Linked DNA regions of Homo sapiens: region 1 is linked to region 2. Evidence: fine-mapped expression QTL. A gene starts in region 2. The other region holds a variant in brackets. All regions are shown on one strand. Distances are from middle to middle. Region 1 has its middle 34 kb from the start of MFSD1. Region 2 holds the start of LXN (latexin).

Region 1 (5,524 bases), 160 kb after region 2:
CTTAGTGGATGGGAAGGTACAGGGAATGGGCCTGAGGACAATCATATTATCTCTTAAAATGTTTTCCGGCCGGGCGCGGTGGCTCACGCCTGTAATCCCAGCACTTTGGGAGGCTGAGGCGGGCGGATCACAAGGTCAGGAGATCGAGACCATCCCGGCTAAAACGGTGAAACCCCGTCTCTACTAAAAATACAAAAAATTAGCCGGGCGTAGTGGCGGGCGCCTGTAGTCCCAGCTACTTGGGAGGCTGAGGCAGGAGAATGGCGTGAACCCGGGAGGTGGAGCTTGCAGTGAGCCGAGATCCCGCCACTGCACTCCAGCCTGGGCGACAGAGCGAGACTCCGTCTCAAAAAAAAAAAAAAAAAAAAAAAAAAAATGTTTTCCATGACTTCTATTTTTTTTTTAGAATTCTGTGAATTTTAATAGAGATTTGTGCTATGACACCACAATTAGGATGCAGAACAAATAGTTCCTTAATGTTTCAAAGGAAAAATATTATAATTGCCTTTTAAGATAATGTATGTATTCTTTTCATGTGGAAATATTTGAATTATCTTAGAAAGTTCTAGTTTATTTGTCAGCACTTAGATTTTTAAAATGCTTTTTGAGTCTAATGACTAAGTACGTAAGGTTTTATGATCATGCTACTTAGTATGTTTCGTAGACAATTTTTCACCTTTTAACATTTCTGAAATTGGGATGTGTCTTATCTTTGTTCGCATTTCATGATTCAAAGAAGTACAGTAGTGGGGAAAACCAAGCATGATGCTTGTGGCAATGTCATGTTGCTTCCTGAGTAAGATGTTCATGGGCTTCTGGGTCTTCGTGTCTGGCATCATTGACTCCGAGGCTCTTTGCTAGACCTGGCAACTCAGAGATGTGGAAAGCGTGGACCACCTTGCTCAAGGGTCTCATGAATGAGTGGGGAAATAGACAGAGGATCAGTGATTCAGTGACTCTGATACAGCGTGATGAGGGCTGTCAGAGCAATGACAAGACTTAATAAGGTTCAGAGAACCTAGGACACCTGCATGATTTGAAGAGGAGGTGATCTTTGAGCTGCATTGTAAAGGGTGAGTAGGATAGCTCATCTAAAGCTGAGAAGGTGCAGGATGGGAGGGAGGAGGAGAAGACGTCCCAGAGCTAATCCTGAGAGAGGCTGCTGGTGAATGGAAATGAAATGAAAGTGACATGTGGGGAATTTAGTTGTGCAAGGCAGATCACTGAAGTCTGTTTCTTCGATGTTCAGGATTGTGATCATAATCTTTTGAGCTTCTGGAAGATATTAATGCTGGTGATTCTCAAGGTAGGATTTGAATTTTAGAAAGGTGACCCTTTAAGCAGTAGGAATGGAATGGATTGGGGGTTGAGGGGAACAAATTTGGAGGCAGGAGAATGGTTAATAGGTTGGAGCATTGAAGCTGGAGACATGATGGGCCTTGAATTAAGGCAGTGGTAGTGAAGATGGAAAGGAGGGACAGGTGCTTATGGTGCTTGGGAGGTTGAACTGACAGGTGGTCATTTGCTGGATGTGAGGTCGGGGAGAGGCCAGAGTTAAGGACGACTCCCAGACTCCTGCCTAGGGTGGACATTGGTGCCATTCAGCCATCAAGACCGCAGGTGAGAAGGTGCAGGGTTGGGAGGAAAATGAGTTTAGTTTTGGCATTGCGGAGCTTGCGGTGCCCGAGATTTGTATGAACAGGAACATGGGTTCAAAATGTGAGAGAGGATTGCTCTGGGGTGTGATTTGGGAGCCATCGGGGAGTCAGTGAGATTGCTCAGAAAGAATGTGGGATAAGATAAGAGGGCCAAGGACAGAGTCCTGGGTCACATCCACTCACCCGGTGTGAGCAGGGAGAGATGCAGTCTATGGAAGCTAAAGAGGTTTTAAGAGGGAGTGAGTGGGCCGGGCGTGGTGGCTCATGCCTGTAAACCCAGCACTTTGGGAGGCCGAGGCGGGTGGATCACCTGAGGTCAGGAGTTTGAGACCAGCCTGGCCAATATGGTGAAACCCCATCTCTACTAAAAATACAAAAATTAGCTGGGCGTGGTAGCGAGCGCCTGTCATCCCAGCTACTCGGGAGGCTGAGGCAGGAGAATTGCTTGAACCCGGGAGGTGGAGGTTGCAGTGAGCCAAGATTGTGCCATTGCACTGCAGCCTGGGTGACAAGAGTGAAACTCCGTCTCAAAAACAAACAAACAAACAAACAA[AC/A]AAACGGAGTGAGTGACAGTGTCAAATGCCAAGAAAGGTAGAGAGGATAGGGGCTGACAGTGTCTGTTTAACTTGTAACTGGGAAGTCATTAGTTTTTTTTGAGAGGAATTTCAGTGGACTGAGGTGGCGGGGTAGGCAGCAGCCAGGGTATAATGATTTGGAGTATGAATTCAAGGTAGAAATTACAGTAAAAATTGTAGCCTGCCCTTGCAAGAAACTAGGCTATAAAAGAAGAGAGTGTAAGAAGGTCTTCAGAGGCTGCTGCTTTGACTGTCGGGTTAATGCTTTATAAAGTCCTCTTTATTAATGTGTTTTTCTACTTGCAGAGTAGAACATTCTCAGACTCTGCGATTCTTTAATTTTCCTGAAGTGGCACTCTTTGCTTTTTGTTCATGATTTAACCACTATAAAAATGCCCAGCTACAGCTTGCTGCAAGAACATAAGTTTGGCTTCTTATCATGGAATTCTTTTTGAGGCCATTACCTTTGAAGTTGTTTGATACGTTAACAAAAAAAATCCTCAACAAAACAAAAAGTTGGGAAGTACAAATACTAAAGAGATTTAGCTTGTTTATAGGAAAGTAAAAGATAATGAGACTATGTAACTTTATAAGCTCAGGTTATGCTTAATTGCAAGCAATTAAAAACTTTCCCCTTTTTATTGCCTTTGAAATATGGGATAAAAGGAAAAAGTGAGAATGCTTGCAGGTTGTGTATCCTGGGACTGCTTTGAATTGAAGTCGGTGGGTGTTAGAACAAATAAATCCCAAAGAACTTGTGATTTAGTTTTATAGGCACACATTCATAAATTGGATTTTTCAGTAATTCCAGAAAAGCACACACAGGAGAAGCATTTGTTATGTATTCATTTATTCCTCAGTGTTTTAGTGAGCACCCATATGCTCAAGCCTCTGCTAGATCTCGGGGTGAGGGAGATAAAAGGATTTAAATAATGCCCCTCATACTTTGCAGAAGGGGAGATGTGCTAAGAGAGGTGTGGAGGATGTTCAGAGAAGAGAGGGCCTTCTGATGAGTGATCCAGGGAGGCTTCTCGGAAGAGGTGGCATTTGAGCTGTTTGCTGAGAGACAGACAACTGTTACAACTGTTCATTCTCTTTGACTAGTTTGTTTCATGTTAACACCCTTGACTTCTCTGTGTCTTGACCCTGTTTACTTACTTGATTTTCTGATGCTCTGTTATCCGAGAGCAACTCCTGTCCTCCACTCTGTCATGCTTTCTATGATTCCTGTGTATCCTAGGTCCTCTGTTCTTTTTCTTCACTTCTCTCTCAGAGATACCATTTTCTGATTCAGCTCTGTATATTTGCCCACCCAGTTGGCCCCAAACCCAGAGCTTGAGATTCGGTTCTCTCTCAACCTCCACCCTGCATTTCCAACTTGAGGTCTCACTAGCAGCTAACAGTAGCTTGTCTAAATCTGAGCTCTCCCTAACAGCACACAGTCCCCTCCCTCCCTTCCTCCCTTGCCCACCCACTGAGTGCTAGGTGCTAGTTGATCATTCTTCTGATTCCCGTGGCTCAGAGTCTCAGAGTAGTTTTTGTTATGTCTCCCTACCAGCCGTGTTTAATCCTTTTATTTCTGTTTTTTCCAATACGTTTAAAAATTTTAGTTCTCCTTATGCCACCTTAGCCTGCCTGTTAAATGCATTCTTGGATCCCTGCAGTGGTCTTCTAAATATTGATCATCTTTCTTTTCATGATTGACATCACCTGTGCCCACTGTCTACCACACTTGCAATGTTGCTGGGATACCATGTTCTATGGGTTGAAAAATGGAGTTGTGAGGGAGATAAAACAGACCTGAAATGATAAAGGAGCCCATGTCAACTTCAAGGCAATAAGCCCCATGGGAGAGTCAGCAGTGCAGAGGTCTGAGGCAATTGGAGGATGCCAAGCCCATGGCCTGTGGAAGGTGGGAACGTAGGCATTTGGAGAAGGCTTTGTCAGGGATTATAAAGAGGTAGATGACAGGCCCGTGGCAAATGTGAGAGAGGTGGGAAGCCACAGGGTGTGGTGAGAGAGCCATGAGTTGAAGAGTTCAGCTGGGACTAGACTGTGACATGGCTAGCATGTCAGCGTGAGGGAGCTGGGCTTTATTCTGTGGAAGTGAAGATACAGGGGAGAGTGGACAATTGGGGAGGATGGGATGTATGGAAAATACTGTTCTAAAGAAAATCTGGAGATGCTGTGAAGGGAAGGGAGGTCAATATGGAGACTTTGAAGGAGTCTAAGCTGTGACATTTTCTTTAATTCATTCAAAACATGGGGGAGCTGCCAGATTAAGTTTCTAAATCATGACTTTGATCATACTGCACTTCTGCTGAAATGCCGTTGGTGATTCCTCCTGGCATGAGAAGTGGTTCTTTCACTGGCATTAGGGGGGCTTCATCATCACATGTCAGCCTGCCCTTCCAGCATTGTCTCCAACTCCTCACCTTCAGGAACCAACCAATGACTTTCACACAAATTAAATTTGCTCACAGTGATCTCTCTTTCCATTTTCTCCACTGCTTGGGACATTCTCCTGGTTGAAATTTCTCCCAGCCTTCAGTGTACTCATAGGCTCTTCATGGCTCTCTCAGCCTGAGTGCTCTCAGTCCCCTTTGAAACTCCTCTAACGCTTACTGCCTGTATTATTCATTTTGATAATCAACAACTGACATAATTTCTTCTGTAGCTGCTTAAGCTGTTAGTACCCATATTGTTGTTTGTATGTTTTTATATTTTGCTTCTCCAACAGTCTATAACTTCCTTAAGGGTTGGGATTGTGTTTGACACTTTTGTAGCTTGCTATAGCCATCATATTTTCATCCAATATGAAAATACTAGCTCCAGTGACTGTATTTTGAACATCATAGTATTTGCTGACCTTCGGTTCTGTTTTAACCTGTCCAAACAATCAGGAAGATTAGGGAAGATTCTGAGGGCCCCAGGGGGATAACGGATTTGAGGATCCCAACTTTCCCCAGGGTGGAGGGCATTGAATGGGTAAATTCAGGAAGGACATTTTTTTCCCCTGGTTTTCTTATCCCCTTTTATAGGTGAGTTTTCTCTAATCACAAAGGAAGTGATGAATATCGTCTTGCCTCAGGTTCCACAGTGGATTCCTAGTTCTACTTACAATGGGGTCCTTTTCCTGAAGGGAATAGCCTAGTTTGATCCTAGTCTCTTGAGATAATTGTCCCTGAAAACCCAGGATATGATGTCAACTCAGTTAAACTTTTTTGATCCTAACTGTCCAGAAATAAGTTAAAAATGGATGTTTATACTTTGCTGTTAAGTAGGTCAAAA
Region 2 (5,000 bases):
CCATTACTGAAAGATCTTCATCTGAATGGTGGTATCAGCTGGCATTCTATTGCTTCTGAATATCTAAGAGCACGTTCTTTCTCTAAAAACCCAGTGAAAAATAGAATGAGAAAAGCAGACGTTAAGAAGATGATTGATTGGGGAATAAATTACTTCACTCATTTATATTAGGCATAAGTTCAGACTGCCCTAAGAGTATGTAACTTCTTAAGAAATTCATTTGAACTGAAGTGTATAGTCTTTTTTTGTGTAGTTTGGTAGAAATAATTCATATACCTAGGAATACCCAAAGATAGTAAAGAACTGATCCTTGTAAACTTTGCCCATATGGTCAGTGTTTTTCAGAGGCAGGTATTTCACAACAACTTTTTAAAAAGAGGTAAAACTAATCAATCTTACAGATTTGATCAGCAAAGATGATCTGGAATATTTAGAATTAAATTTGTTTAATAAGAACATTTTGGCTGGGCTTGGTAGCTCATGCTTGTAATCCTAGCACTTTGGGAGGCAGAGGCAGGAGGATCACAAAAATTAGCCAGGTGTAGTGGCATGCACCTGTGGTCCCAGCTATTTGGGGAGGCTGAGGTGGGAAGATGGCCTGAGCCCGGGAAGTTGAGGCTGCAGTGAGCCATGTTCTGCCACTGCACTTCAGCCTGGGTGATAGAGTGAGACCCTGTCTCAAAGAAAAAAGAAATTTAACTTACTTTTTGTATAATTTCTTCAACAGCAAATTTAAGGTGATACTTATGTCCTCTTCCTGGAATATCCTAAAATTAAGAAAATGTAGTGGAGACAAGAAAATATTATAACAACATTATACTTGCATTGTTAGAAGTATGCATCTCATTTGGTTGGAGGGGCTGGCTGAAGGGGAATGGTGAAAGCCTTAGGTCTTGAAAAAGGCATGTCACCATGAATGTAACATCTAATTTAGCAAGTCCCCTATCAAGTTTATTTTGGATGAAAACAAAAGAGTAGGATAAAAGCATACAAATTGGGCACAATTCACTTTCAATCATCAAAAGACTTTATTTAACCCCTGGATCTGTGATCTTAAAGTCTCTACATAAGAAAGTTTGAAACAGCGTTTAATTCTAAAGATGACAATATCACCTTTGAAAAGATTTTTTCATAAAGCTCAGTGTACCCTCCAAATAATGTTCAATGAATGTGAATTTCATTTTGAGGCAGATTACTGCAAAGCAATTGGAGACTTAATACAATTAAGTATTGTTTTTACTTATACATTAGTGAAACTGCAAAATGATTAACAAATTATATAAGACTAAGAAATGGTATTTCACTTTTAAATCAAGATACAGATTGAAAATTTATACCTAATTCTGTTATCTGGTACAGTTTCAAAATAAGATCTACTGTGTCACCTCTAAAAGACTGTTAGCAGTTAAAATTCTGTCAGATAAATAAGGGATAATCTCAAATCCAGTAGATTTTCGTAAAATGAAAACAAACCTCGTTAGTGATTGCTGAGGCCTTAAACATTTAATTCAAGCCTTTAGCAGAGGGTGCACATCATTTAAGGCAGTCATGTGGTAGCGGTGTTTGGGTGGCTAAAGGCCAGCGTCAGCCCACAGTGCTTTTATTCTTTGACTTTGATTGTCAGTTTCTCTTGCTGTTTGTTTCCCCCTTCATTTTGGTCAAAGGGTCTGATAAGGATTTGTCTTAAAATGTAGGCAATAGAGTCTTGGAAGATGGGAGCTTTTGTTGGTCCAGATCAGAGTAGCAGATGAGAAACGTGGCAGCCTTAGTAGTCTTTTGAATGGTTTCTACAGTTTACACTTAAGGAAAGTGCTGCCCCTTACCTAGAGCGTGTTCCCGTTTTCTTGTAACTGTGTGCGTAAAAACTTTGTCTCTGCCTTAAGGTGAAAACAGTCCCGGGCTGTCTCCAGAGACTGGAGTATAGACATTCCCCCAGAAACCTTAATATCTCAAGACCAGATACCAGCAGTGTGTCCTAAAACAGAAGGTGGGTAGGGGGTGGCACGGAGTGTCTGCACCCAAAGGCTGAGACCGCGGGTGAGTGGAGGGAGCGCAATCCTGAAGCCTCTGCTGTCCACCACCCCCTGCTAAACTCACCTCCATGCTGGCTTGTTTGACCTTCTGCACCTCAAACACCCTGTGCGGGGTCCCCTGCTGGTAGTTGATGTAGTTCTGTGCCACCAAGGCCGCCCTGGAGGCTGGGTAGTTGGTCGGCGGGATTTCCATTCCGGATGAGCAGTGACTTCAGGGCTTGGGCTACTCTGGCTTAACGGGACCAGTAGCAGAGCGCCGCCCGTCCTGCTTGCTGCTGGGTCCGGTTGCCGAGGCGGAAAAGTCGCAAGCTCCTTCAGTCAGTCTTCTTCCTCAGCTCCTTCCGACTCCGGAAGCTGCTGTTTGGGCCCAGGCTCCCTGCATCCGAGAGCCCTGGGCTGACTGCTTCTGAGGCCCCGCCCCACTACTGCCTGCAGCGGGCTTCCTTACTCCGCCTGCTGGTTCCTACTGGAGGAGAGGCCAGCATGCTTGTCAGGCACCAGCAGGTGGAGGTGTGGGGAGGGAGTCAGTGGGCTAGGTTCGCTGGGATTGCATCTTTCGTTTCATTAACCTTTATAGAAGTGCAGGGTGGGGCTTTCGCTGATATAGGACATCTCTGAAGACTCTAGTTTCCTGTCCATGGGAAAAAAGTCTGGTTGCTTCGCTTGCATACTGGAGCACAACTTCCTTATACACCGCATGCAGCGTCCCTGGCAGGGCAAGGTACACAGTACTCCAGGTAGTGATTCGATTCCTTCATTTCCCTTCCCCTTATGAGAGTCCAGGAAGAGGCTTGCTCATCCTCAGCTTTTTGTGGGTTTGGACCAGTTCTGCCCAAATCAAAGTATGAGAATCTGCAAACTATAGTATTAAATTGGGAGATTATGTAATTTGGATCAGGAGAAATAAAAAAATGCACCTGTACCCCTCTCCTTTACTAATCTTAAAATGATAAGTTTTGATGTAACGCCATGCTTCCAACTTGAGTCATTTTGAATATTTTACTTCAAGGATTAAAATAAACTTAAAAACTGAACTTATACAAAGCACTCTCTCTGGTATGTGGTCTACCTCATTGCAATGGGCCTATAAACCTGACTTTGTAGAAGTACAGGTTTATCCTTGGTGGTCTTAGGTTAATTGGGCTAGGATAACTTGGAGATTCTACCAAAGTTTGGCCAAGGTCTTCGCTGCCTGGATTGAGACCTTTTTTTCTTTTCTTTTCTTTTTTTTTTTTTTTTTTTTGAGATGGAATTTCACTCTTGTTGCCTAGGCTGGAGTGCAATGGTGCTATCTCGGCTCACTGCAACGTCCGCCTCCTGGGTTCAAGCAGTTCTCCTGCCTCAGCCTCCAGAGTAGCTGGGATTACAGGTGCCCACCACAATGCCCGGCTAGTTTTTTGTATTTTTAGTAGAGACGGGTTTAGGCTAGGCTGGTCTCAAACTCCTGACCTCAGGTGATCCACCCACCTTAGCCTCCCAAAGTGCTGGGATTACAGGCATAAGCCACCATGCCTGGCCAGGACCTTTAACTTGGTAGTAATGCACACACCCAAGACTCTTGAGGTGTATCTCTTTCTGATTATGTAGATTCTGCAGTAAATCTGGATTCTGGACTTTGGCCTCAGTTTCATGCTTATTATTGTCTCCTGGGATTTGGGGGTTCTGATTGACTTTGCCTTTAAATACCATCTGTCTGCTTGCCCATCATCTTGTATCAAATGTCAATGAAACTTTTCTCAGTCTTGTCCGTGTATGAGAAATTTGCTTTGCGAGACACTGTCTTTCACACATGACCTTTTTTTTTTTTTTTTTGGAGACAGAGTTTCGCTCTGTTGCCTAGGCTGCAGTGCAGTGGCGTGATCTCGGCTCACTGCAACCTCCACCTCCCAGGTTCAAGCATTTCTCCTGCCTCAGCCTCCCTAGTATCTGGGACTACAGGTGCACTTCACCACACCTGGCTAATTTTTTTGTATTTTAGTAGAGATGGGGTTTCACCATGTTGAGTTCAGGCAATCCTCCCTCCTCTGCCTCCCAAAGTGTTAGGATTACAGGCATGAGCCACCGTGCCTGGCCTCTCCACGTTTCTTAGTTCAGCATTTGTTAAACCCTGACCCACCCATGGCAATATTTTTGCAAATACAGAATATCAGCCAATTTTCGATGGGGTTGTCAGATACGAACTTACACTGTCTCCTGGGATAAATTTACCAAAGAATTGGTGAAATTTGGGGAACTTTGACATGAAGAAGACTGTTCATTTGAGAGACACTTTAGAAGAACACCAGAAATAAAAAAATAAGACTTTCGGAGAACAGTATTTGTCTTATTTGTCTAAGAGCATTTTAAGTAGAAGACTGCCCATATTTTATTTCCATACTTCAAGGTTTTTTATTAATAACATGGCTTATATTTAAGCTTTTTCCTCTCTCCTTGAAAAGAAAAGATAATTAGCGTTTTACAGTGATAATTTCATATTTGTCTAAAACTGGCTGTAGCTCACCTTTTCCTGTTTCTCATTTTCTTTCATTAAAAATTTGAAAGATGATTCATGAGACTAAGTCATTCTGTCATTATATGTGCAGTCCAGGAATATCTAGTCCAAATAAACAGCCAAAAATGTCTAAGAAAAAAATCATTGTGCTTTAAAAAATGTGTAAAAATTAATGTGGTCAAATGAACTTAAATAGCCTTTATTATTATGTTTATAAGGAGCAAGTTTACGGCCGGGAGCAGTGGCTCACGCCTGTAATCCCAGCACTTTGGGAGGCCAACGCAGGTGGGTCACGAGGTCAAGAGTTCAAGACCAGCCTGGCCAATATGGTGAAACCCCGTCTCTACTTAAAATACAAAAATTAGCCGGGCGTGGCGGCGGGCGCCTGTAATCCCAGCTACTCGGGAGGCTGAGGCAGGGAACTGCTTGAACCCAGGAGGCGGAGGTTGCAGTGAGTGGAGATCATGCCACTGCAC

Evidence for each region. PIP is the estimated chance that this variant, and not a neighbour inherited with it, causes the effect.
Region 1: its variant is the best candidate, but not a certain one, in a credible set for the expression of LXN in whole blood (INTERVAL, PIP 0.52).

What each region holds. Positions count from the first base shown.
Region 1 is chr3:158,833,245-158,838,768 of GRCh38, forward strand. No RefSeq gene overlaps it. Among named protein-coding and RNA genes, the nearest start is that of MFSD1, 34 kb to the left of the region's middle. The variant AC/A (reference allele first, on the strand shown) is at 2,212.
Region 2 is chr3:158,670,253-158,675,252 of GRCh38, forward strand. It overlaps LXN (latexin), which reads right to left and starts at 2,396. Exons shown (of 6, transcript NM_020169.4): 1 at 2,098-2,396; 2 at 705-767. The coding sequence starts at 2,226. The region is part of intron 13 of GFM1 (G elongation factor mitochondrial 1); the gene reads left to right. RefSeq lists enhancers at 1,613-2,205, 1,720-1,779, 2,206-2,798, 2,220-2,269, 2,580-2,769.